Homo sapiens: one gene and its partners. The protein of the gene in region 5 purifies or fractionates together with the protein of the main gene of each other region. This does not show direct contact. Each region holds a gene or a part of one and is shown on either strand. Other genes may lie near its edges. The genes, in order: KCTD3, PLEKHA5, AGAP1, MAP3K21, RTKN, NAV1 and LARP1.

Region 1 (3,500 bases), on a different chromosome or scaffold from region 5:
TTCCTCAAAACTTTGATTCTTCTGGTAAAGAGGCAACCAATATCCAATTTTAGTAGGGCTTAGGAAATAAACTTTCTTTAGGTGCACGCGTGCACACACATATACACAAACATGCTACAGAGGAGAACCATCAATATACTTCCTTCAAAATATTTTTTTTAAATTGTATTTCCCACAGCAGTACTTTCCTTTCTCAATTTCGATTGGTTGTCTCCTCTTTTTTTGCATGTGATCACTAGATTGCAGCCCACTAGAACTGGAAGGCCGAGTCTGACCAGGTCCCTCTCTTTTCCCTTTCTCATACAAGAGATTAAATGACCTGTCCAAAGTTACACAGTAAGCAAGTGACAGAATCAGAACTAGTAAACAAAGCAACTGATTTCCAGAAAGTACTTGCTCCCTTGATAATTTATTATTTCTCTGAAAAGGTGGTATTCTCTATTTTTCATTCTCCTTGCTAAAGGTTACTTCTTTTCTAGGAAATGGCAAGGGAAACAAAGTCTCATTTGTATTTATTTTTTTAAAGTATAGGAATAAAAAAATTAGTTTTTCCAGGAAAATCAATCTAGTTTACAAATTAATACCTTCCCATATTTGTGCTAAAAGAAACCTGCCGAGGCAGGCAGATCACCAGAGGTCAGGAATTCGAAATCAGCCTAGCTAACACGGTGAAACCCTGTCTCTACTAAATATACAAAATTAGCTGGGCGTAGTGGCGCATGCCAGTAATCCCGGCTGCTCGGGAGGCTGAGGCAGGAGAATTGCTCGAACCTGGGAGGCAGAGGTTGCGGTGAGCGGGGATTGTGCCACTGCACTCCAGCCTGGGCAACAGAGTGAGACTTGGTATCCAAAAAAAAAAAAAAATGTGTTTGCTAGGATAGTTGCAATACTATTTTACTAGAGTGATATTCTACTATTCATCAAAATGAATCTTCCCTGTTTACAGCCAGGCCAGACAAGCCTGTTAAGCTTCTTCACAGATGACATTTGAATTACTAAGACACCAAGTTTTGCATACAAGTCTAAAAGATTTCCAATAATTTAAAAGTTAAAAATGTTAAGGGACTTTTACTTTTCATATACTATACCTGGCTTTCATTTGAAAAGTTAAAATCTAAACATTATCTGCTTAACATTTAAGTACTTTTTATGTACCACATATTATCCAAGAAAACAAACAATGAACTAGAGATAAGGGATGTGAGGTATCCCCTTGCTCTCTAGGAGCTGGTAACTTGTGAGAAAGAAAAATAACAGACAATTATAGTGTGACAGGCACTAAAATAGACTACAATACAATCACAGGAGAGAGGGGAAGAACTGCCATCTCAGTGCTGGTGGGTGAAGAGCAAAGATCAAGGAAGGTTCACAGAGGAAGTGAAGCTTGAAGACTGAAGTCAACTATGAGTTAGGTAGGGCAAGGGGAAAGGGAATATCTGAAGAGCAAGTAAAAAAAGCACAGAATCTAGGTTCATTCTAATTAAAAACAGAAATAACTAAAACTTGGAAATAATCATTCCTCTAAGCTCTTCCTGTATATAATCCTAATTTCTGTACCCTCTCAATGTCATGCAGTTATGAGTTACACAAGAAATATCTCAAAGAACTCAATCATCATGCCCTATCCTGAGGTCAGGCTTTTAATTAAAGCCAATGCCAAAACATTTTATACCAGGAAAACATTGAGTACTTTTCAGTGATATCAGTAAAGATGTCTAAAGGATGGAGGGGAGACTGCTTTACACACCACTAACCAATTTTCTTACTCAAGTTAGCTAAATCATTTTAGTTCTAGCACTAAAGGAAAGGGCTTCAACTCCTGCCCCAGATTCTTCATGGCAGGAAAATGGGGACAGATAAGGCCATGAGATTCTTCTCCCTTTGGATACATTCTTTTTTTTTTTTTTTTTTCAATGAAAGAGCAGCAGGAGCCTAGCGCTTCCCAAGGCACAAAGGCAAACATTTTTACCATTTATTCTCTGGGAGGATGGGCTCTAGGATTAAAGCCTTGCTACTTCTCCTTCTGTAACCTTTAATCATGATCTGCCTTTCTTTCCATGTCTACCCCTCCATACGGGAAAACAGAGAAAGCAGAGGATAAGCAGAGTTACAGTGAGTTACAACTGCTGAGTTCTTCTCTCCCAGCACAAGCAAGGAAGCAGCCACTGTGTGGCCTCCTCTTCTTCGTCCTAACAACTTCATGGCAAGAATCCAAGAAACCATACTGATTAGTATGCATGGTTCAGTCATGTGGTCACAAATATAAAATGGAAGTGGATTTTTCTCTTATAAGGTAGCACACAGTGATTACCACTAATTTCTACATGTAAATTTAAATTTACAGTTTTAAAATACCAGTCTATCTTCCCATATAAGGCCCCTAGAATCTTTTAACTACAATCTCTATACCTGTAAACTTATCATTATTTTTTACAGGATGTTTTAACCTTCGTCCATTACTTTTTAAATAATCACTTATCTAAATTTACCATCGTATTTACCAACATCTTTCCTAATCACTGCTTAATGCATTCCATTTCTTCCCCTTCAAATATAACGTTCTTCTCAAAAGGCATTTTTCTTTAGTAGTCCTTTCAAAAATTCTCTCTGAAAAAAAACCCTTCTCATTCAGGTTTGAATGATAGTTTTGCTGTGTATGAAAACCTAGGCTGAAAGTTACTTTCTCTACCATTTGGAGAATGCCCGTTGTCGTCTTCTGGTGTCTACTACTGGTGATGAGAAATCTGATCAAAGTCTAATGACAGGCAAACTGTCACTATTCTATGAATACTTTTTATCATAATTTATCTTTTATTATAGCACATTTAAACATTCAGGCTGCCAAGACTTGGTACATTTCTTTAATCAATAAATTCATGCCCATTTTCATTTCTCCAAAATGTTAGCAGTTGTTATCTTTTTCAATATGGCTCCTCTAGTCTGTTCCTATCTGAAATGCTTTCTCACTTTTTCCTTCTTTTTCATATTTTCTATCTCACTCTTGGCTCAACTGGAAATGATTTTCTCAGACGTGTCTGTCAATTTACTAATTTTCTTTTAGCTGCGCTTCTATTTAACCATTAAATAAAATTAAAAATTTTTTTTCAATGACCTTTTAATTTTCAGTATTTTATTTCCCTCCATTTTCTGATTTGTCCTATTCCTTCAATACAGCAGCTTTCTAATTGTTCCATTATTTCCAATTTGGGGATTGCAAATTTTTTCTTGTTTAATGACTTTTCGTTATTTGTTTCCATGTGAAGTTTATAAGTTTTGGGAGGTTATTTTAGCAGAAATTACTCTTTCTACAGGATTCTTGTGTGCTCTCTTCTGAGAAAGTGTTCTAACTGGTGTCATATCTGTATCTAGAAATGTCAATAGTCCTAGATCAGTTTCTCAAATTGGAGTTCTCATAGAACAAAGGCAAGTCTTTGTGCTTCAATTCACTCCTAATTTGAATATGTTGGTTTCAATTTCTAATGGTTTCCTCTTGCATCTCC
Region 2 (3,500 bases), on a different chromosome or scaffold from region 5:
GGTTGTTGTTGTTGTTGCTGTTGTTGTTGATCTCCTGACCTCAGGTGATCCGCCCACCTCGGCCTCCTGAAGTGCTGGGATTACAGGCGTTAGCCACCACCCCTGGCCTATCTATCTTTTTAATCTAGGATAGTTCTCTCTCTACTCTTTTCTTTACGCAATTGCCTTCTAGAAAAATGACCAGCATTAAGAAAAAAATCAGAGTATACATTACAGAAATATTATTTTAGAATTTACTTTGTTGATATTGTGTGAAAATTTGTTTCAGCCATTAATACCTTATGCATAATTTTAAACACACACACAGAAAAGACCCTGTCCAGGTGTGGTGGCACATGCTTGTAATCCCAACACCTTGGGAGGCTGAGGTGGAAGGAATGCTTGATCCCCAGAGTTCAAGACCAGCTTAGGCAACACGGCAAGACCTTGTCTCTACAAATACTTAAAAAATTAGTTGGGTATGGTGGTGTGTGCCTGTAGTCCCAGCTACTTGGAAGGCTGAAGTGAGAGGATCACCGAGTCTGGGAGGTCGAGGCTACAGTGAGCCATGTTTGCTCCAGTACAGCAGCTCAGGTGACAGAGTGAGACCTCACACACAACAACACATCACAAACAACAACAACAACAACAACAACAACAACAAAAACAACCACCAGAAACAGAAAAAAAAAAAAAGAAAACTCTCCCAGGAAATGGGAAACTTTAAAGTTTGACATAAACTTATTTCTTAGTAAAACCTAATCTGATGTGATGTCTTTTATTTTTATTTATGAGACGAAGTCTTGCTCTGTTGCCCAGGCTGGAGTGCAGTGGTGCGATCTCGGCTCACTGCAGCCTGCACCTCCTGGGTTCCAGTGATTCTCCTGCCTCAGCCTCCCGGGTAACTGGGATTCAGGCACGTGCCACCATGCCCAGCTAATGTCTTTTATTTTTAGCATTTATTTATGCCACTTGGAATGAATATTGTAGAAATAGTGTTAAAAAAAGGGTGCTGCCTCATACCTAGCTGAGATGACATATATCATTTATGGGCCATTTTATCTTTTAATATCTGAAAATTTCTTAATTTAGAAACTCATCAGAGTCCAAAGGTTTCAGATAAAGGGTTGGACTCATATATGAGTCAACATGTAAATGGAATTTACTACTATTTTGGCAGTAAATTGTCTTCAAAAACAAAAACCAAGAGGTAAAACATATTACAAATGCTGACCTTTAACAACTGAAGTTTCTATCTCTGAAACAGGTTCTGATTTTTCTTCTCCATTAGATTCATCAACTTCTGCCACTGTTGTTAACTCTGGTTCACTCTTGTAGAGTCTATAATCTGGACCCTTGAAAGGAAGACATGTAATTACCCTAAAAAACTGCTAAAAGTTTCTTTTAAAATGTTTACTGCTAAAGACACAAATCAAACTCTAAACATTAGTAGCCCTAGTGAGCCATCTGGGATATAACACAAATAATACCTATGTCACAATTACGTGGAAAGAAGAAATTTGAGAAATTTTTAAGTGGCAAAACTTCGTTTTAATATTAAGAATATTTCTGGCCGGGTGCAGTGGCTCACACCTGTAATCTCAGCACTTTGGGAGGCCAAGGTGGGTGTATCACCTGAGGCCAGGAGTTTGAGACCAGCCCAGCCAACATGGTGAAACCCTGTCTCTACTAAAAATACAAAAATTAGCTGGGCATGGTGGTGTGCGCCTATAATCCCAGCCATTCAGAAGGCTGAGGCAGGAGAATCACTTGAACCTGGGAGGCGGAGCTTGCAGTGAGCTGAGATTGCTCTACTGCACTCCAGCCTGGGAAAGAGTGAGACCCTGTCTCAAAAAAAAAAAAAAAAAAAAGAATATTTCTGTTCCTCTTAGGAACAAAGTCACATTTTTATGATGGAATAATTGAGGGCTAAAAATAACTATATTAATTCAATAAATTTTCATTCACAAGGTAGTCTAAGTGAGGCCCATCCCAGCACTAAAATTCCTGTCACAGACATTTTGTTGTTCTCAAATTAGCTCAATTCTAATTTCCTTTTTCTCTTTGCTTATTATATCCTACATTATTTGCTTAACCCTAAACGTATTTCCCATTTTCAGGGGTGACATCTCTCCTTAGCAACATCCACATCTTTGAGTAGTTTTCCTAGACCAAAATGTCCACATCCCAGCCCCTTTACCATCCCTAGTAACGGTCTTTTTCTTTCTCCCTTCTTTCTGATCTGAAGGTATAATCTTGCCTCCAATACCCTAAAATGGTATATCTAAAATACGGCTGCTTCATCATGGGAAAAGTTACCACTTTATGAAAATATGAAAAATGCTATGAAATTATAAAATATTAAAATTATAAAAATATTAAAAATGAGAATAGCAAAACCAAAACAGGAAAGACACAAATGATAAAGTCATATATAAACTAAAAACTGCTGGCCAAAAATGAGGTTATAAAGGTTATAATAAAAAAAAAGTTTGAGTGTAAAATAAATTAATTTTCAAAAATGAGAGGACATGTAGGATTGATTATTCTGTGGCTATTCCAGCCACTTACACAGTGAGATCCATTTCTTGGATATCCTTGAACTTGATACATCTTCTTTTCTTCAGGCAGATGAACTGGGCCCCTGCTATAACAGAGCAAGGAGCTGCTATCACTGGGCAGAGGGGGGATTATGGGAGGCTGCTCTGTAAAGTCATAGGACCGAGGAAGTGGAGGACGAGGTGGGACTACTTCCTCTTCCTAAAGATTGTAGAACAGTCACCTTATTTAGATAAGCAGATTGAATTAAGCATATCTAAATTCTTTGCAATGGTATATTAACTTAAATTTACTTTAAGATACTAAAAGGGACACTGCCAAGCCAAAAGTCTAATAATGAAAAGTAAAATCAAAAATTTTTTATCATAGCCAATAATTGGAATTTAACATATAATTACATCTGATTCTTTCCTGTAACATATAGGTTAGCTTCACACTGAAACTCAACATTGAAAGAGATTACTATTTAAAACTAATTACTGGGTTTCATTTTAAAACTAGAAGGAAAGAACTGATTTTAAAATCCTATTCTTATATTTTCACAATTTATCTTATTTATTTATTTGGTAGAGATGGGGTCTCGCTATAGTGCAGTGATTTGATCATACATAGCTCACTGCACCTTTGAACTCCTGGGCTCAAGGGATCCTCCTGGCTCAGCCTCCCGAGTAGCTGGGACCACAGGCACACCATGCCCGTCTAATTTTTCAATGTTTTCTAGAGATGGGGGTCTTGCTATGTTTACCAGGCTGGTCTCAAACTCCTGGGCTCAAGACATCCTCCTGCCTTGGCCTCCTAAAGTGCTGGGATTACAGGCATGAGCCACTGCACCTGGCCCCCCAATTTTTAAGAGAGGAAAAAAAAAAGTTACCTCTTTGGTTTTTATACGAAATTCAAAATAATAGATTCTTTTGGTTAGGTTGACAGTATCTCTTTGTAGTTGTAATTTCTTTATGCTACGC
Region 3 (3,500 bases), about 160 Mb from region 5:
AGTCTTGGTACACACTCATGATTATTTACTAAGAATAGATTCCTGGAAGTAGAAGTTCTAAGTGAAAGGATATGTACTGGATATGTACCTTTTTCCCCACCTAGAGAGAGGGTCTTGCTCTGTTGCCCAGGCTGGAGTAGTGCAATCATAGCTCACTGCAGCCTCCATCTCCTGGGCTCAAGTGGTCCTCCCACCTCAGCCTCCTGAGTAGCTGGAACTACAGGTGTGAACCATGCACCTGGCTATTTAAAAATTTTTTTGTAGAGACAATGGTCTCCCTATGTTGGCCAGGCTGGTCTCGAACTCCTTGCCTCAAGTGATCCTCCCACCTTAGCCTCCCAAAGCACTAGGAGTACAGGCGTGAACCATCGTGTCTGGCTGATATGTAGTGTTTTTGAGGCTTATTTATTAAGTATGCATTTAATATTATGGTTAAAGCAAAAATTGATCAATTTCAGAGGACAGTTACAATAAGCTTGATTTTTGCGTAAGAATTCTTCATAAATTGAAACATCTCATCAAATTGATGTGAAATAATATATTACTTGCTACATAATAAATTATAATGTATTAATCACTACTGTCTAATTAGCATCATGCGTTATTGAATTTTAATTCCCTTTGGTTAGATACCCAAGTATTCAAAATATGTTTAAACAGTTTACACTGGCATCTGGAATGCAAGTGTGTGATCACACACACACACACACACACACACACACATACAAAGGGATGTGCCTCTGTCTCTCTGTGTACCTGTATCATTTCTGTGGTTGGTTGGTTTGTCTGTCTGTCTAGCTATGCCTATACCTGTATCAGCTCTCAATTATCCACTGGCAGGTAAAATACTATAAAGCTGGTGGTCAACTGGGCCTGTATTTTTGCCTCCCGCTACTCCTTGTGGACAGTATTTCCATGTTTTATGCCCTCACACCTGTTCAACCAATGCCCACGATGACCAGCTCTGAGTCGGCCACCTTTGGTTGCTCAACGCGTCCTCCTCCCAAGGGAGCAATTCCCTGGAGAACAGGCGCCTAGTGAGGGCCGAGGGCAGCATTCTAAGGCTGGTGTGTGCATGAGCTGAGACACGAGTCAGGAGGAGCCTGGCAAGGTGTGGAATGGGAAAGGCTGCCACCATCCCAGATCTTCCTGAATTAGGTCGAGGTGGCAGGGGCTCAGAGTCTGCCGTGAAAGACTGTGATTTCTCCATGAAGGCAGGAACCTGTGCCTCTCTGTTCGGTAACACAGCCTGCCTCCCTGCCTTCCTTCTCAGAATGAGCTGCCCACGCTTGGAGGATGCTGTGTGCTGTTGCTTCCCATTGAGGTGGCCCCAAAGCACCCTGTGCTCGTTTCAGGAGGCACATCATGGATGCATGTGGACGTGACCCAGTAAAGCCAGGGTGTATGGAATGAAAGGCAGTGGTTCTCCCCACCTTGAGTATAAAACATCTTTTAAAAAGGGAAGCAAATTACATTATAATAATAATGACTGTGGTCTGGTTTACCCTGGTTAAAGAGGGTAATAAAATAAGACACTTCATCTTTCTGAAAGACAGACTCTCTTTTTAGTGACAAAGCTGCACATAAATCATAGGCAGAAATTTCTTTAAATGGTTACAAATGAAACTGCAGGTCGGTGGGTAACATCCTTTCTCTTAGTTTCTAGTTGATCATAGTCTGAAATATCAAAATGCTCTCCAAAAGTCTAAGACGTCCCAGCAAAGAGGTTAAAGACAAACAAACATTAAAATAATGAAACTGAAGCAATCCTTGATGGGAAAAAGGACTTTTGTAGAAGGAACATCACTGGGCAGTAGCCTAGAGAACACAGGTTAAGCCAGGCGTGGTAGCTCATGCCTGTAATCCCAGGACTCTGGGTGTCTGAGGCAGGTGGATCGCTTGAGCCCAAGAGTTTGAGACCAGCCTGGGCAACGTGATGAAACCCCACCTCCACAAATAATATATATTACATAAATAAATATACAAATAAATAAGCAAGCAAGCCAGGCCTGTAGTCCCAGCAACTCAGGAGGCTGAGGTGGGAGGATTGCTTGAGCTTGGAGGTTGCAGTGAGCTAAGATTGTGCCACTGTACTCCAGCCTAGGTGACAGAGATAGACTCTCTCCAAAGGAAAAAAAAATACAGGTTAAAATATTTTTCCTTTTCTAGCTAAGTAACTACAAAAAACAAATTGCCTCTCATTATTTTTTTAATATAGAAACATTTGGGGGTGGCGTTTTCTGGTGAGAACCAGAAAACCTGCTGGACAAATTCTAAAAGAGCTGCACCACCACCTCTAATTATTGAATAAAACACATACCAGGCTTTATCAGTTTAGATAATAGAAACTTTATCTTCCCAAACTCCCTGCACGCTCATACAGACCCATCTACTTTTCATTTATGTCCCTAACAAGAGACGGTTTTCCAACTTGATGTCGATTTGAATTCTGGGCATTTACTTGAACAGTGCATCTTTTAAGTCCGTCTCTCTTTTTTTCTGAGTGTATTCTGTCCAAAACAAAAATAAATGTGGACCCAGAAGCCACAAGAGTCCAAAAGATTCCCTCTGGGATTGGCTGACAGACTGAAGATTTAACCTTGGCTCTCCTGCCAGGGAAGCACGGTCAGGCTGGAATACTCATGTATGATGGTATAGACACAAAGTGCTTCTGATCGTTTTAGTTATTGAGCTTTCTGCTCATAAAGAATAGCTAGGTCCTGTCATTCACACTGGTCCTCTATTTTCTCCTCCCTGGGGCATTACTTGGGGCCCGCACTCCCCCTGAGCAGCCCCAGCCTTGGTTTTGGGCAGCCAGGGGCCTCACCTTGTTCTTGCTGCTCTCGCACGACTGCAGGCTGGCCAGGATCTGGCTCTCGATGGCTTGGACCCAGGCGTCCCGCTCCTCATACGTCGTGGCTTCAAAGTGCCATGTTTGGCCAGTGAGGGACACAATGATAAACTCAAAATTTTCTTCTTGTTCTGAAACACAGAGTGTGGGATGAAGAGTTTAGCTTTTATGAGACAGCAGTCCCCCTGCGGGCCCTCTGTCACAGAAGCGCCTCTGGGTTCAGCTGCCCCTGCATGGACCGGTGAGGCGCACGGCACTGGACAACCACGGCGGCGGAGATTTGAATCCATGCACCTCCCAACAGTCCAGATGTGGTTCCTAAGGCCAGCATGACTTAGCCAGGTTTCAATCAAGGCTCAGGGCACAAGGCCAGATGAAATCAACGAGTGATGTCAGCGTCTCTGTGTGGTGCACACACAAAGCAACTTAGGAGAATAACCATGTAACTCATGGCTGACCATCCTTATCTGTGGGACGAAAATTAAGTTAGGGCCGCTAATCTCCGGCTGCAGGGTTAATTTCTATCTAAGCACTCGCGTAGATCCACAGACACTCCATGGATAGAGGAACGCGGGAAGGTTCTGTTCTTTTATGGCAGAGGACCTGTTACCGTGGGAGAGGCATCAATTCCCACGTTTTCAGACAGGGA
Region 4 (3,500 bases), on a different chromosome or scaffold from region 5:
CTATTATTTAGTTAAGCAGTTAGAATATTTCTGAGATTTTTCCTGTCTCACTTTCAGGTATTATTTGTACTTTGTCAGCCCTTCAAAACTGAGTACAAATGTGTTCTCTTTACTACCTTAAAAATATTGTTGGTCTGTATCCACCAAAACCTAATTGGTGTGTTGTGTGCTTCTATCTTATGAAAAGAAACATTTTTCTCTTGTAGGATAAGACCTCTCTCCGATGGCAACAGTCCTTGGTCAACTATCTTAATAAAAAATCAGAAAACCATGCCCTTGGCTTCATTGTTTGTGGACCAGCCAGGTAAATGTGTTTCAGGAGGTAGGATTTGCTTGAGCAGTCCTTGGCATCTGATTGTGCTGAAGCTTTGCTTTTACAGTCTTACGTGGTCATTAAAGTAGCAGAGGGGAGATTAGCAAGTAATGGCATTTCTTATAGCTTTACTTAAATTCAGAAGTTATTTTCCGTCAAGTATTTATGGCAGGAAGTAATTAGGCTTCACGTGGTTTTGGGAATTTGTAACTCTTCTTCCTTACCAGAAACATTATTATCACAATTAATTATGTAAAACCAAATCAATTTAGTATGGGAAATATTAGATGTAAAAATATAGACCCCCCTGAAAGTTCTGCTGAGATTAAGGGGTATGGCTTCTTGCTATAGTGCCACCTGTTGACATGAGGAAATCCAATGAAACAGGTTAACTATGAAAAACACAAAAACTAGCCGGCATGGTGGTGCTTGCTTGTAATCCCAGCTACTCAGGAGGCTGAGGCAAGAGAATCACTTGCACCTGGGAGCCAGAGGTGGCAGTGAGCCAAGATTGTGCCACTGCATGCCAGCCTGGACAATAGAGTGAATGAGACTCTATCTCTAGATAAATAAATAAATAAATAAATAAGAAAAATGACTCCTTGGAGAGTTTTACACTGGAATTTCTATTTAATTTAAATGAATCATAATGATTTACTTTCAATATTCTATATTTGTATTCAGTATTCAGTATTAAAAGATTGAAGAGATGGAAATCGTTGAAAAACTTCAAGCACGGTTACTAACACAGAAAATAAAATTGGTCTTTATACTTGACCATTTAGGCAGACTCTTTGGTACTTTGATCAAATTAAAGATGCCTTAGCAAGACACAATGTAAATGTATTGAATTTGTTATTGGTACTGTGCTCAATTTCACAAGCACCTTTGCACTCACTACCTGGGTTCAGCTTCTCCTTCTGAAGGTTCTCCTTTATGAAGGAAAAGGGAGCTTGGGTCAGCAACGTCAGGGAGTGGAAGGAAAAAGAGGGTACCCCAAACAAAAGGCACCACAGGGAAGAGCACAGGGTTCTTTGGAGAAAGAAAGCTGGCACCCCAAATTGTCTACATCAGCAGTCCCCAACCTTTATGGCACCAGAGACCAGTTTCATGGAAGACAGTTTTTCCATGGACCAGTGGGGTAGGGATGGTTTCAGGATGATCCAAGCGCATTACATTTGTTGTGCACTTTATTATTATTACATTGTAATTCATAATGAAATAATTCTACAACTCACCATAATGTAGAATCAGTGGGAGCCCTGAGCTTGTTTTCCTACAACTAGATGGTCCCATCTGGGAGTGATGGGAGACAGCAACAGATCATCAGATCCTAGATTCTCATAAGGAGCAACCTAGATCCCTTGTATGTGCAGTTCACAATGGGGTTCATGCTCCTATGAGAATCTAATGCTTCTGCTGAACTGACACAGGGCGGAGCTCAGGTGGTAATGTGAGCAATGGGCACTGGCTGTAAATGCAAAAGAAGCTTCACTCGCCCACCTGCTGCTCACTTCCTGCTGTGCAGCCTGGTTCCTAACAGGCCACGGTATCAGTCCATGGCCTGGGGTTCAGGGACCCCTGGTCTAGATCATCAAGCATGTTTAGGTATACTAGGATGTAGTGTTGGAAAAAATTAGAGATGTTATTTGGAAATCAGATTAATGAGTTTGTTGTTTAATTATGCGCTGTCACTTTTGTGATAAGAATGTTAGCTTCCTCTTAAGCGGGTATAATTTGTAACCTTTGGGATTCTGTAACCTCTTGGGAGAATCTTCTATTTTAATGGTCCCCAAACTTCAGTAAAGGCTAGCTGAAACACAGACTGCTGGACTCCACTCTTCAGAATTTCTGATTCCATAGTCTGGGGTGGGCCAATAATTTACATTTCTACAAATTCCCAGGGGATGCAGATGCTGCCAGTCCAGGCCACACACTTTGAGAACTGCTGATCTGCTACAGAACAGTTAGTTTATACACAGGAAAGCTGTAGATAATGGAGCCTGATGCATGTATTTAGGTGAAGTGAGGAAAAGAGCACATTTGGTGACATATTTAGTGATTTTGTGCCTATGGTTGTGCGTTTTTGTGTTTTGATGACTGTTTCTACAATAGTGTCTATTATTGAAGCTGATGAAGAACAGCTTCCCGAAGCATAGGAAACAGCAGATGGCTAGCTTGCTGGTTCATCTGCAGGGAACCTGAAGTTGTAGGGCCCTAGACTCTTGCTCCATGGAGCCCTCCTGGATGAATCATTTGCAGAAATGAAAAGGGCTGCATGTGTTTTGATTTAAAATATGTATTTATTATATTTTAGCTTTATTTTACAATCTTGTTTAAATGACTTTTGCTGTAAAATGATACTACAGTGTATGTACTTATACCTTTATTTAGGGTCCTGTGAAGAGCCAAAACTTTCCCCTGATGGATTAGAACACAGAAAACCAAAACAAATAAAATTGCCTAGTCAGGCCTACATTGATCTACCTCTTGGGAAAGATGCTCAGAGAGAGAATCCTGCAGAAGCTGAAAGCTGGGAGGAGGCAGCCTCTGCGAATGCTGCCACAGTCTCCATTGAGATGACTCCTACGAATAGTCTGAGTAGATCCCCCCAGAGAAAGAAAACGGAGTCAGCTCTGTATGGGTGCACCGTCCTTCTGGCATCGGTGGCTCTGGGACTGGACCTCAGAGAGCTTCATAAAGCACAGGCTGCTGAAGAACCGTTGCCCAAGGAAGAGAAGAAGAAACGAGAGGGAATCTTCCAGCGGGCTTCCAAGTCCCGCAGAAGCGCCAGTCCTCCCACAAGCCTGCCATCCACCTGTGGGGAGGCCAGCAGCCCACCCTCCCTGCCACTGTCAAGTGCCCTGGGCATCCTCTCCACACCTTCTTTCTCCACAAAGTGCCTGCTGCAGATGGACAGTGAAGATCCACTGGTGGACAGTGCACCTGTCACTTGTGACTCTGAGATGCTCACTCCGGATTTTTGTCCCACTGCCCCAGGAAGTGGTCGTGAGCCAGCCCTCATGCCAAGACTTGACACTGATTGTAGTGTATCAAGAAACTTGCCGTCTTCCTTCCTACAGCAGACATGTGGGAATGTACCTTACTGTGCTTCTTCAAAACATAGACCGTCACATCACAGACGGACCATGTCTGATGGAAATCCGACCCCAAGTAGGTTGCATTA
Region 5 (3,500 bases):
ATGTCAGTGTTGCTTACATTTTACATCCAGAAGCTGAGCCCTTTTAGAATGCACAATCTAATTTGTTTGAATGGGTAGGCTTTCCTTAAGTGGTTTCTTATTTCCTTTCCCACTCCCTGCCTCTGAAGGTGAACCCCAGATATAACAAACTATTGTCAGTATGTGGTAAATTGGTGATTTTGTGAACCAGCGTTGAGGAAATTAATTTTCCAAAAGCCAGATAGCCAGTCTTACTGGATCACAGACAGGGCTTAGCAAATTAGTGCTTTTGCATTACTTGCTACCCTTCAGATCAGCTACCTTTCACCAGACACACCGACTTTTCTAAGTCCTGCCCTGGCTACTCACAAATGCGCCTCTGGGCAACACACAGTGGTGGTAAAACACCAAGGTCTCTCCCAGGTCCCTGATAAGACTTCATGGGGAAGTCATCTTTAAGGTGGTCCACATGCCACACACGCACATGCTGCACCACCACCACCCAGAAGGCCTCCTGCCTCCATCGAGGCCTCGTCTCCCCCTTGCTCACCGCCGGCTTGTCTTCCCCAGCACCTGCGCCTCCTTGCGCCGCTGCAGCTCGCCCATGTAGCTGAGGATGCGGCTGTTGCACACTAGCAGGCTCTTGGTGGCCTCCAGAGCCTGCTCTCGCTGGGAGCAGGCTGCCAGCAGCTTACAGGCCCCTTCCCTCATCCGGATCTCATGGTCTAGCTTCCTCTGCAACTCCGTGTCCTAGCCAGGGTTGGGGGAAGGGTGAGAAGGAAATGTCAGTCAGTGGACAGGCTAAAGCACTCCCCAGTCCCCAGGTGGGCTGTGGCCAGTAAAACTGACAAGAAACTAATGTTTTAGGCAGTTCAAGAGCAGGCATTGGGTCTCAATCTCAGCTGCCCACGAATAACCAGAGAAGCTTTGTAGCCAGGTGCAGTGGTGTGTGAGGGAGGCTGAGGTGGGAGGATCCCTTGAGCCTAGGAGATCAAGGCCAGCCTGGGCAACATAGTGAGACCCCACCTCTAAAAAAATATATAACAGCCGGGCACGGTGGCTCACGCCTGTAATCCCAGCACTTTGGGAGGCAGAGGCAGGCGGATCACAAGGCCAGGAGATCGAGACCATCCCGGCTAACACGGTGAAACCCCGTCTCTACTAAAAATACAAAAAATTAGCAGGGCGTGGTGGCGGGCGCCTGTAGTCCCAGCTACTTGGGAGGCTGAGGCAGGAGAATGGCATGAACCCGGGAGGCGGAGCTTGCAGTGAGCCGAGACTGCACCACTGCACCCCAGCCTGGACGACAGAGCAAGACTCTGGCTCAAAAAAAAAAAAAACATATATATATATATATAAAACAAATAAGAAAAATAGAGATGCCCTCATGCATTTGATGGTTGGAAGTATAAATTCCTTCAGCCTCTTTTGAGTGCAATTTGGAAAAAAATCTATGAAAACTACAAATTCATATATCCTTTAATTCAGCTATCCAATACCTAGCAGTTTATCTTACACATATAATTTCACATATATCTAGGTAAAGCCATACATACAAAAATATTCAGTGCGGCATTTTTTTTTTTTTTTGAGACGGAGTCTCGCTCTGTTGCCCAAGCTGGAGTGCAGTGGTACGATCTCAGTTCACTGCAAGCTCCACCTCCTGGGGTTCATGCCATTCTCCTGCCTCAGCCTCCCAAGTAGCTGGGACTACAGGCGCCCGCCACCACATCCGGCTAATTGTTTTTTTGTATTTTTAGTAGAGACGGGGTTTCACAGTGTTAACCGGGATGGTCTCGATCTCCTGACCTTGTGATCCGCCCACCTCGGCCTCCCAAAGTGCTGGGATTACAGGCGTGAGCCACCGCGCCCGGCCTCATTGTGGCATTGTTTTAAACACCAAAATTAAAACCCCTTCAGTAGGACATTGGTTAAATAAGTAACAGTACATCTGTACCCTGTAGTATTGCAGACATTAAGGAAAGAGATATGCACATGTATGCAGATATGAAACAATCTCCAAAATAAATGATGTGAGAAAAGAAGGGTAGTATTGCACATACTACCATTTGTGCATGATATATATATATGTATGCATGCATATATATACATAGATATAGATATGCATGTTTATGCATAAAATATTAGTGATTGTAGGCCTGGGAGCCAGGGATGGAAAACATTTATGATACTTTTTTTTTTTTGAGACCGAGTCTCACTCTGTCACCCAAGCTGGAGTACAGTGGCGCGATCTCAGCTCACTGCAACTTCCACCTTCCAGGTTCAAGTGATTCTTGTGCCTCAGCCTCCTGAGTAGCTGAGATTACAGGCATGTGCCACCACGCCCGAGTAAGTTTTGTATTCTTTTTTTTTTTTTTTTTTGAGACCGAGTCTTACTCTGTTGCCCAGGCTGGAGTGAAGTGGCATGATCTCGGCTCACTGCAAACTCCGCCTCCCAGGTTCAAGCAATTCTTCTGCCTAGCCTCCGGAGTAGCTGGGATTACAGGTGTGAGCCACCACACCCAGCTAATTTTTGTATTTTTAGTAGAGACGGGGTTGCACCATGTTGGCCAGGCTGGTCTCAAACTCCCGACCTCAGGTGATCCACCCGCCTTGGCCTCCCAAAGTGCTGGGATTGCAGGTGTGAGACACCATGCCTGGCCTAACTTTTGTATTCTTAGTAGAGACAGGGTTTCGCCATGTTGGCCAGACTAGTCTCGAACTCCTGGCCTCAAGTGATCCTCCCACCTCGGCCTCCCAAAGTGCGGGATTACAGGCTTGAGCCACTGCGCCCAGCCTAATGATACTTTATATATACCCTTTGTACTACTGGAAATTGTATTTCCTTTAAAAAATATTAGATCTTTGGAGTTTAAAAAAAAATGATCAGGCCCTACCTAAGATTTGCAGAATAAGAATCTCTAGGAGTGGGGCATATGTACTTTTGGAAAACTCCCCAAGTGATTCTGAGGTACACCCAGGTTGAGAACCACCAACTCATGGGAATGGACAGAAGGAAAGGCAAATGAGAGTTATCCCTCAGACTCAAGTGATGCCAGGGACATCTAGTTGGCAAGGGATCAGTGGACAAGGAGCATACCACCTACAGTGTTCACTGACGCTGCACAGAAACCTATACACCCCAAATTAAGAGAATCACCACCTACCGGCCCTCTGAGCTTGGGAGATGAGGTCAGAGGCAAGGAATGGGGATGGGAAGGTAGGTGGTCCAGGAATGAGGGACTGTGGATAAGGGCCAGCTGAGAGGCCCTGGAAGAGACACCAGGATTCTCAGGAACATTCATTTAGAAAGGAGCCCTGGAGGTCCTGCTTCTTAAAAAGCAATGGGCAATTTGCTCAACCTCCCTAAGCCTCAGTTTCCCCATCTGTAAATCAGGAATGGAAATAGTCCTAGGGCTGTGAGAATTCTGTGAGGCAGGAACTTAAAGCACTTAGCACAGTGCCCAGCATGTGGTATACATTAATGGCAGGGATGCTTATTTTAATGACGCTATACTTTG
Region 6 (3,500 bases), on a different chromosome or scaffold from region 5:
CTAGCCAACCAGATAGACCGGGAAACAGGAATTGGGGATGTGCCCCTGGTGATTCTATTGGATGACCTGAGTGAAGCAGGCTCCATCAGTGAGTTGGTCAATGGGGCCCTCACCTGCAAGTATCATAAATGGTAAGTAAGCTGGGATCAAGACAAAATTCATCGAAGTGGGAGGAGGGAGAACCCAGTCCAGGACAACCTATGAGTTGTGTGCATGTGGCAGAAAGCAAGTGTGAAGGCAAGTCTAAGTGAATCTTTTTCCCCTTTCTCCCTACAGTCCCTATATTATAGGTACCACCAATCAGCCTGTAAAAATGACACCCAACCATGGCTTGCACTTGAGCTTCAGGTAAGACCTCTAGCTCTGGATGAACCTTCTGACCCTACCCAAGAGTCTTCAATCCTGGACTCTGGCCAGGAGGCAGTAGATAGGAGAAGGAAAGAGAAGTATCCAGAGCTTTTTGGGCTGGAAATAGAAAGTAGATGTATTTGTCATGTCAGTTACAAGGTGGAGGAGGACACTTGAGGAGAGAAAAGGCCTGCTAAGCTAAGAGAGAGCCAGGTAGGTTGCTCTAAGCAGAATTAGGATTCTCTGCCCGCACACGCTGATCTGGGTCAGTGATGTCAGAAGGTTATCCGAAGAGGGCTACCAATTTGAGAATCAGCTCTACCACCCCAGGGCTGCTGCTCTGAGTTCCGATGTCCCCACTATTACTTGAAAAGAAACCAAGTAGGCATTAGTGAGAAGCAGGCAGAAGGAGGGACAGACTGGCAGGGGCTGAACCCTGACAATGTCCCCATTGCCACTCTGACCCCACTTTCCCCATCCTTGGTGGCAGGATGTTGACCTTCTCCAACAACGTGGAGCCAGCCAATGGCTTCCTGGTTCGTTACCTGAGGAGGAAGCTGGTAGAGTCAGACAGCGACATCAATGCCAACAAGGAAGAGCTGCTTCGGGTGCTCGACTGGGTACCCAAGCTGTGGTATCATCTCCACACCTTCCTTGAGAAGCACAGCACCTCAGACTTCCTCATCGGTACTGGGGTCCAGCTTCCCCCGGGGGTCAGGAGGTGGCTTCCCTTTTCCACTGTACCACCTGGAGGGATGCTCCCTTCTCTTCCTGGAGTCTTCGGCATGTAAAGGAGCTGCAAGCCTTGTGGCTTCAGACTTAGAACCACTTAACGAGCCTTCCCAACACAGTTAGCACCACTTCAATCACCAGAAAGCTAACCCCTCTCCTTGTTTTTTTCCCACAATTAACAGAAAAAAGGAGGCACATATGTAGGAAGGAATTAAACAGCTTTCCTCACTCCCTTATCTCACTTCTACCTTGTGAAGCAGGACTTATGAGATTGCCATCTAGGCAGTCAGCACCCACTAGTCTTGACAACTCTAAATTTCCTTTAATCCTTTGACTGTCAGACCCCTCTGCCTGGTACTAAGGAGTAAAAGAGGCACACAACCGGGAAGATCTAGGTTCCCAGCCATCTTCATGGCCCCATCCTCTTCCCTAGGCCCTTGCTTCTTTCTGTCGTGTCCCATTGGCATTGAGGACTTCCGGACCTGGTTCATTGACCTGTGGAACAACTCTATCATTCCCTATCTACAGGAAGGAGCCAAGGATGGGATAAAGGTGAGCCCTACCCCCTTCACTCAAACCCTAAGATCAGGCTGTCCTACCTAACAAAGTAGGAATGTTTCTTTAATGTTAGGCATGGGACTACTAGGATTAGTTAGGTTCTCTTTCTAACAGGTGGAGCAAGGCACTGGGTAGACTAAGCTGCTTTCCTGCCTCCAGCTGCCATTCAGCAAATGGTACAATGACCACTGCCTCTGGGGCCATCTCTCCAGTCCTAGGCCTTCTGGCTCTAAGCCCAATTTAAACCACTCTCTAGGGGTCAGAGCAAACAGAAAAATAATTGAGCTAAGAAGTAAGTAAAACCCTAATTAAAACAAACAAACAAACAAACAAAACCTTAGCTACTTACTACTAATAAGTATGTTATATTAACCAAGTTACTTGACCTTTTTAAATACCCTCATATGTAAAAAAAAAAAGGAGACATCACCTTCTGCTCTACCTAAATCACTGGAGTCTTTTGAAGACAAAATGAAATATGTGAAAAGATTTTTAAAAGTTAGAATAAGGAGACCGGGCGTGGTGGGTCATGCCTGTAATCCCAGCACTGTGGGAGGCCGAGGCGGGCAGATCACCAGGTCAGGAGATCAGGACCATCCTGGCTAACATGGTGAAATCCCCTTTCTACTAAAAATACAAAAAATTAGCCAGACGTGGTGGTGGGCGCCTGCAGTCCCAGCTACTTGGAAGGCTGAGGCAGGAGAATGGCGTGAACTCGGGAGGCAAGAGCTTGCAGTGAGCTGAGATCACGCCACTGTACTCCAGTCTGGGCAACAGAGCGAGACTCTGTCACAAAAACAAAAACAAACAAACAAACAAAAAAACTTAAAATAAGGCTGGGCCTGGTAGCTCTCGCCTGTAATCCCAGCATTTTAGAAGGCTGAGGCGAGAGGACTACTTGAGCCCAGGAGCTTGGGCAACATGGGAGACCCTGTCTATACAAAAAATAAAAAAAATCAGCCAGGCATGGTGGTGCACACCTGTAGTCCCAGCTACTCTGGAGGGTGAGGCCAGAAGATCACTTGAGGCCAGGATATACAGGCTACAGTGAGCCATGTTCTCACCACTACACTCCAGCCTGGGCAACAGAGTGAGAACCTGTCTCAAAAAAAAAAACAATTAAAATTAAAAGTTAGAATAAAAACTTAGTGCAAAAGGAACATGTCATTTTCTTAAAACCACCTCAGTTTTCTTACCTGTAAATTAGGGTATGATGATCACTAAAGTCCATTCCAGCACTAATAAACTGTGATGTAATGGCTAGACCCATGGGTCATATATTATCTGTAAAAGTAACTTGTTATTGAGATAGATATCTCCTGGTGATATAGTAAATTTCTAAAGATGCTGTCAGACTGATGCCAGAAATCATTATTTCATTTATAAATTATATTATTTTAAGGAAATGTTGCATTATTATTAGTAGCTTTTCAATTTAAAAGCATTTTCACACAGATAGTATTTGTTTTCAAGAAAGTAAAAAACAAAAAAAAAGCCGGGTGCGGTGGCTCACGCCTGTAATCCCAGCACTTTGGGAGGCCAAGGCAGGCGGATCACAAGGTCAGGAGATCGAGACCGTCGTGGCTAACACAGTGAAACCCCGTCTCTACTAAAAATACAAAAAATTAGCTAGATGTGGTGGTGGGCACCTGTAGTCCCAGCTACTCGGGAGGCTGAGGCAGAAGAATGGCGTGAACCTGGGAGGTGGAGCTTGCAGTGAGCCGAGATCACCGCCACTGCACTCCAGCCTGGGTGACAGAGGGAGACTCTGTCTCAAAAAAAAAAAAAAAAAGTTAAAAAAAAAAAATTAAGCATTATGACTAAAGCGGAAACATTTCCTACTTGAAAAATGAAATTGTAGG
Region 7 (3,500 bases), on a different chromosome or scaffold from region 5:
AGCCTCAGAACACAGAGCAGGTGAAGGATTTAGCACTTCCTTAGCTCAGACAAGGCAAGGGAGAGAAGCAAAGCACTGGAATGCAATGAAGTAGACCCAAGACTCTGAGCAGCCCGACAGGAATGCCTCACCTTGGCATCCAGTGTCCGTCCTTCTTTCACCACTGGGTAAAACCGTGATGTCTGGCTTGAGTCTTTGAGCTGTGGTGTCCGGGGAGTGCGAGGGGTCCTGGTGTTGCGGTAGTTTGGTGACTCTGGGACAGTGGTTGGTAGAGAGCGGGCGATGGTGGAGGGCTCAGGAGCACCAAACAACTTGTTGGCCAGGGCATCCGTAGGAACTGCAGAGGCAGAGAGAGGAGTCAGGAAGCAGGGAAAGGCCTGTGGCATCCACCCCAGGATAGCCCCCAGTCCAAGGGCCCTAGATCCTCTCACCCATGTCAGGATCTCAGGTGTCTGCTTCTCACCTTGCTGGAACCGAGGTGGCCCAGGAGGAACTTCCTGGTTGGGATCCACAGGGGGCTCAGGGGTCAGTGTGTCAAACTGCTCCCGGCTGATCATATTGACCTTTTTGAAGTTCTCGACTTCTTGCTGCAGAGGTCATGAGATGAGTGGGGAAAGATGTAAGTAAGCAGGCTGCTCTAGCCTGTTTAAGGAATCAAGACTGGCAGGAAGTTGGAGAGGGCAGCTCCCACGTCGACATACGTGGAATTCTGGTCCCCAGGCTCTCAGCTGCCCAGTCACCATTCCTCACCCCAGTTACCTTGGCACAAGTGTGCTAGCCCAGAAGAAGACAGTGCTTGCCCTGCCCTCCCTGTAGTAAGACTGAGATCAGGCTGACAGTAGCTCCTCAGGAACTCACTACACACTCCCCCCTGAAAGCTCCAGTGTTTCCCCATCTCTCTTTCTGCTACTGCCTTATCACACAGTGGCTGGGCAACTCTCCTTCCTCCTTACTTCCAGGAAACACACTGCTACTTATTACAAAGGCTCACCCTAGGACAACCTACCACCAAACATACCCACTCTAAAATCCCACAACAGAGATGTTTTGACTATTTCCAGGCAGCAGCAATTTTTCAAAAGACTTATCTTTTCTCCATTTTCCATACTCAACACAAGCTTCTTAAAAGGCTTCTAAATTTTTAGATGCCTAAATATTTAAGACTAGAAATAACAATCTAACCCTTTTTCTGTTCCCCACAAAAGTGTCTAGCCAACTGTCAGAATATTAACTATGGATCCGCAGATAGGATAATAATCACCACCGCCTCACCTGAAGAGTTTGCAGTGTTTACACATCACCCCTCACTCCTAATGCCCAAGCTAGATGTCAGTCATCATCCCCTTCCCATATATAAAAATCCTGAGACTCTGAATTATAAGGACCTGCCTAAAATTGCACAGCTAATCAGGCTTCCTCTTCTCCGTACAATACAGGCACACCAGGCTCCACACTCACTGCTATGTCCAAGCCTCACCTTGATCTGGGAATACTCAGGTTCAAACTTTTCAGCCCACAGGTCCTGCTCATAGTAGAAGAGGCCATCATTAATGACCTTGGCCAGTTCGGCGCTCATCTTGGCACGCGAGGTGTGGTTGCCTGTGCGGTCCCCCCCTGGGTGCCGGCGCATGTAATGTGGTGTCTGGGTGACAATGAGGATCTTGTTGACATCCCTGTCATCAATCTCATAGTCAGATTCCTCATCAGACCAGGCAGTGAAGGTGTTCTTCCGCCCATCCATCTGCTCCATCTCCTCGTCAAACAGAAAATCCAGTTCCTCTTGCTCATCCTGATCCTTGGACATCAGCTGCTGGGAAGGCAGCTGCTGAGGCAGAGAGGTCAGGTGGGAAAATCTGGACTCCTCTGACTTCTAAAATAGGACAGACGAAGGGGAAAAGGAATCACCAGAGATCCTTGGCCCAGATTCTGTAGCTATACCATGAGAGGGAAGCTCCAGCCTCTCAACATAAGACTGTTCAACTATGACCCTGGTAACACCAGCAGGTCACAAGCGTCATCCTGGGAGTCAGCTTTATGACTATGAGAAAGGATGTTTCATAGAAGTCCAGGTTCCTCCACTCACAGCTCATATCACAGTCATGCACAAACAACTGATGATGACTTCTCTATAGGCAGGAACTGTGCTCTCATTTACCTTTATATCCTACATAGCACCTAGCTTAGGAGTGGACACACAGAAGTTCAGCAGGTTGATTCATCCACTTATCCATCTATTCAACATCTCCCAATAAACTGGAAGCTCCATGATCCACAGCTGCCTTGCTTTCCATTATATACTCAGTACCTAGACGGGGATCTGGTAATACCAGATGTTCAATTATATAATAAATGAGGGAGTACCCATTAGTCCTAAGCTCTGTATGAAAAACCTAAAAGCAGAATAAGACAAGGTCCCTGTTACTTAGGGAGCTCAATGGGAGAAAGTCAACCAAACAGCCAACTGCATTGTGGTATGGTAAAGGCTATAAGCAGGTTTGTGGATGCACACAGTTAAAGGAGCTTAGTCAACTGTGACTAAGAATGGTTACGGAAGGCCTCCTTCAAGAAGTGACTACCACAGGATGAACATAAGTAAGCCAGATGAAGATAGGGACAGACTAGGCAGAAAGAATACCATTGTTCCAAAGGCAAGAGAAAACACGGTGCCTTCAGCAAAGAAAAACTATTTGTTTTGATAGACTGAATATGAGACGCTGAGAGAGAAGCATTTGTCTAAACCCACAGTATTTATTCAAAAGTAGATTCCCTGCTGTGCCAAGAGCACATAAACTCTAAACCTATCTTTTTTTAAGGTTTAAGATAGACCAGGTCAGAGTAGGGGCTCTAATTCTGGAATGGGAGCTAAGTCTGACCCCTGTTTCAAACAAAACTTTGTAGGCCTGGACTTTGTAAAACCCTCATCTACTTACTACCTTTCTCCTCATGTCTCTGGCTGGATCTCCAACACTTTTTGAGGGCTGAAGCCACAACTGTGGGGAATTCTGTGTATGAACAGGCAGGCAAGAGAAAGGAGATGAGAGGTAATCACTGTGGGAAAATAGATAAGGGAGTATAGAATTCCATAGACCCAAAGTTCAAGGTCAATTCTGCAGTCTCCTCACAAGCCCCAGGCCAGAGGTCTCCAAAGTGGGTGACAGTGAGCAGGTATGTGGAGAAAAATTCAGCACTTAAAAAGGAAGTAGTAATTTTAGTTAGAGATTGCAATACTTCTTTAACAGTGAACTTCATCTGTTTATATATATAAACTATTTCTAGAATATTCTAATGTCTCCTTCCTTTCATCTGCAGATGGAGAAACTGAAGCCTTGAGGTATGAACAGGCTTCCCAAGGTCACCTTGCCATTAGTGCAGCAGACTTGTGTAGACTAACTCCATATTTGGGCCATGCATCTGCTCCCTCTCCCTTCCTTCTTCTGAGGACCTAAGGGGCTTACATACATGATAGTGGGGACATACTCAGGGAAAAGACACCAAAAACG

The links.
Region 1: the proteins of RTKN (region 5) and KCTD3 purify together in Homo sapiens (affinity purification with mass spectrometry, with the first as the bait; one large-scale study listed by BioGRID). This does not show direct contact.
Region 2: the proteins of RTKN (region 5) and PLEKHA5 purify together in Homo sapiens (affinity purification with mass spectrometry, with the first as the bait; one large-scale study listed by BioGRID). This does not show direct contact.
Region 3: the proteins of RTKN (region 5) and AGAP1 purify together in Homo sapiens (affinity purification with mass spectrometry, with the first as the bait; one large-scale study listed by BioGRID). This does not show direct contact.
Region 4: the proteins of RTKN (region 5) and MAP3K21 purify together in Homo sapiens (affinity purification with mass spectrometry, with the first as the bait; one large-scale study listed by BioGRID). This does not show direct contact.
Region 6: the proteins of RTKN (region 5) and NAV1 purify together in Homo sapiens (affinity purification with mass spectrometry, with the first as the bait; one large-scale study listed by BioGRID). This does not show direct contact.
Region 7: the proteins of RTKN (region 5) and LARP1 purify together in Homo sapiens (affinity purification with mass spectrometry, with the first as the bait; one large-scale study listed by BioGRID). This does not show direct contact.

What each region holds. Positions count from the first base shown.
Region 1 is NC_000001.11:215,598,304-215,601,803, reverse strand, and holds part of KCTD3 (BTB/POZ domain-containing protein KCTD3), read right to left. Parts: intron 1-3,500. UniProt on the Homo sapiens protein: Accessory subunit of potassium/sodium hyperpolarization-activated cyclic nucleotide-gated channel 3 (HCN3) up-regulating its cell-surface expression and current density without affecting its voltage dependence and kinetics.
Region 2 is NC_000012.12:19,346,233-19,349,732, reverse strand, and holds part of PLEKHA5 (pleckstrin homology domain-containing family A member 5), read right to left. Parts: intron 2,740-3,500; coding exon 2,551-2,739; intron 1,335-2,550; coding exon 1,214-1,334; intron 1-1,213.
Region 3 is NC_000002.12:236,036,043-236,039,542, reverse strand, and holds part of AGAP1 (arf-GAP with GTPase, ANK repeat and PH domain-containing protein 1), read right to left. Parts: intron 2,983-3,500; coding exon 2,828-2,982; intron 1-2,827. UniProt on the Homo sapiens protein: GTPase-activating protein for ARF1 and, to a lesser extent, ARF5. Directly and specifically regulates the adapter protein 3 (AP-3)-dependent trafficking of proteins in the endosomal-lysosomal system.
Region 4 is NC_000001.11:233,376,224-233,379,723, forward strand, and holds part of MAP3K21 (mitogen-activated protein kinase kinase kinase 21), read left to right. Parts: intron 1-206; coding exon 207-304; intron 305-2,707; coding exon 2,708-3,487; intron 3,488-3,500. UniProt on the Homo sapiens protein: Negative regulator of TLR4 signaling. Does not activate JNK1/MAPK8 pathway, p38/MAPK14, nor ERK2/MAPK1 pathways.
Region 5 is NC_000002.12:74,431,938-74,435,437, forward strand, and holds part of RTKN (rhotekin), read right to left. Parts: intron 730-3,500; coding exon 530-729; intron 1-529. UniProt on the Homo sapiens protein: Mediates Rho signaling to activate NF-kappa-B and may confer increased resistance to apoptosis to cells in gastric tumorigenesis. May play a novel role in the organization of septin structures.
Region 6 is NC_000001.11:201,811,627-201,815,126, forward strand, and holds part of NAV1 (neuron navigator 1), read left to right. Parts: coding exon 1-131; intron 132-276; coding exon 277-348; intron 349-838; coding exon 839-1,035; intron 1,036-1,513; coding exon 1,514-1,632; intron 1,633-3,500. UniProt on the Homo sapiens protein: May be involved in neuronal migration.
Region 7 is NC_000005.10:154,800,377-154,803,876, reverse strand, and holds part of LARP1 (la-related protein 1), read right to left. Parts: intron 1,871-3,500; coding exon 1,478-1,870; intron 588-1,477; coding exon 464-587; intron 338-463; coding exon 132-337; intron 1-131. UniProt on the Homo sapiens protein: RNA-binding protein that regulates the translation of specific target mRNA species downstream of the mTORC1 complex, in function of growth signals and nutrient availability.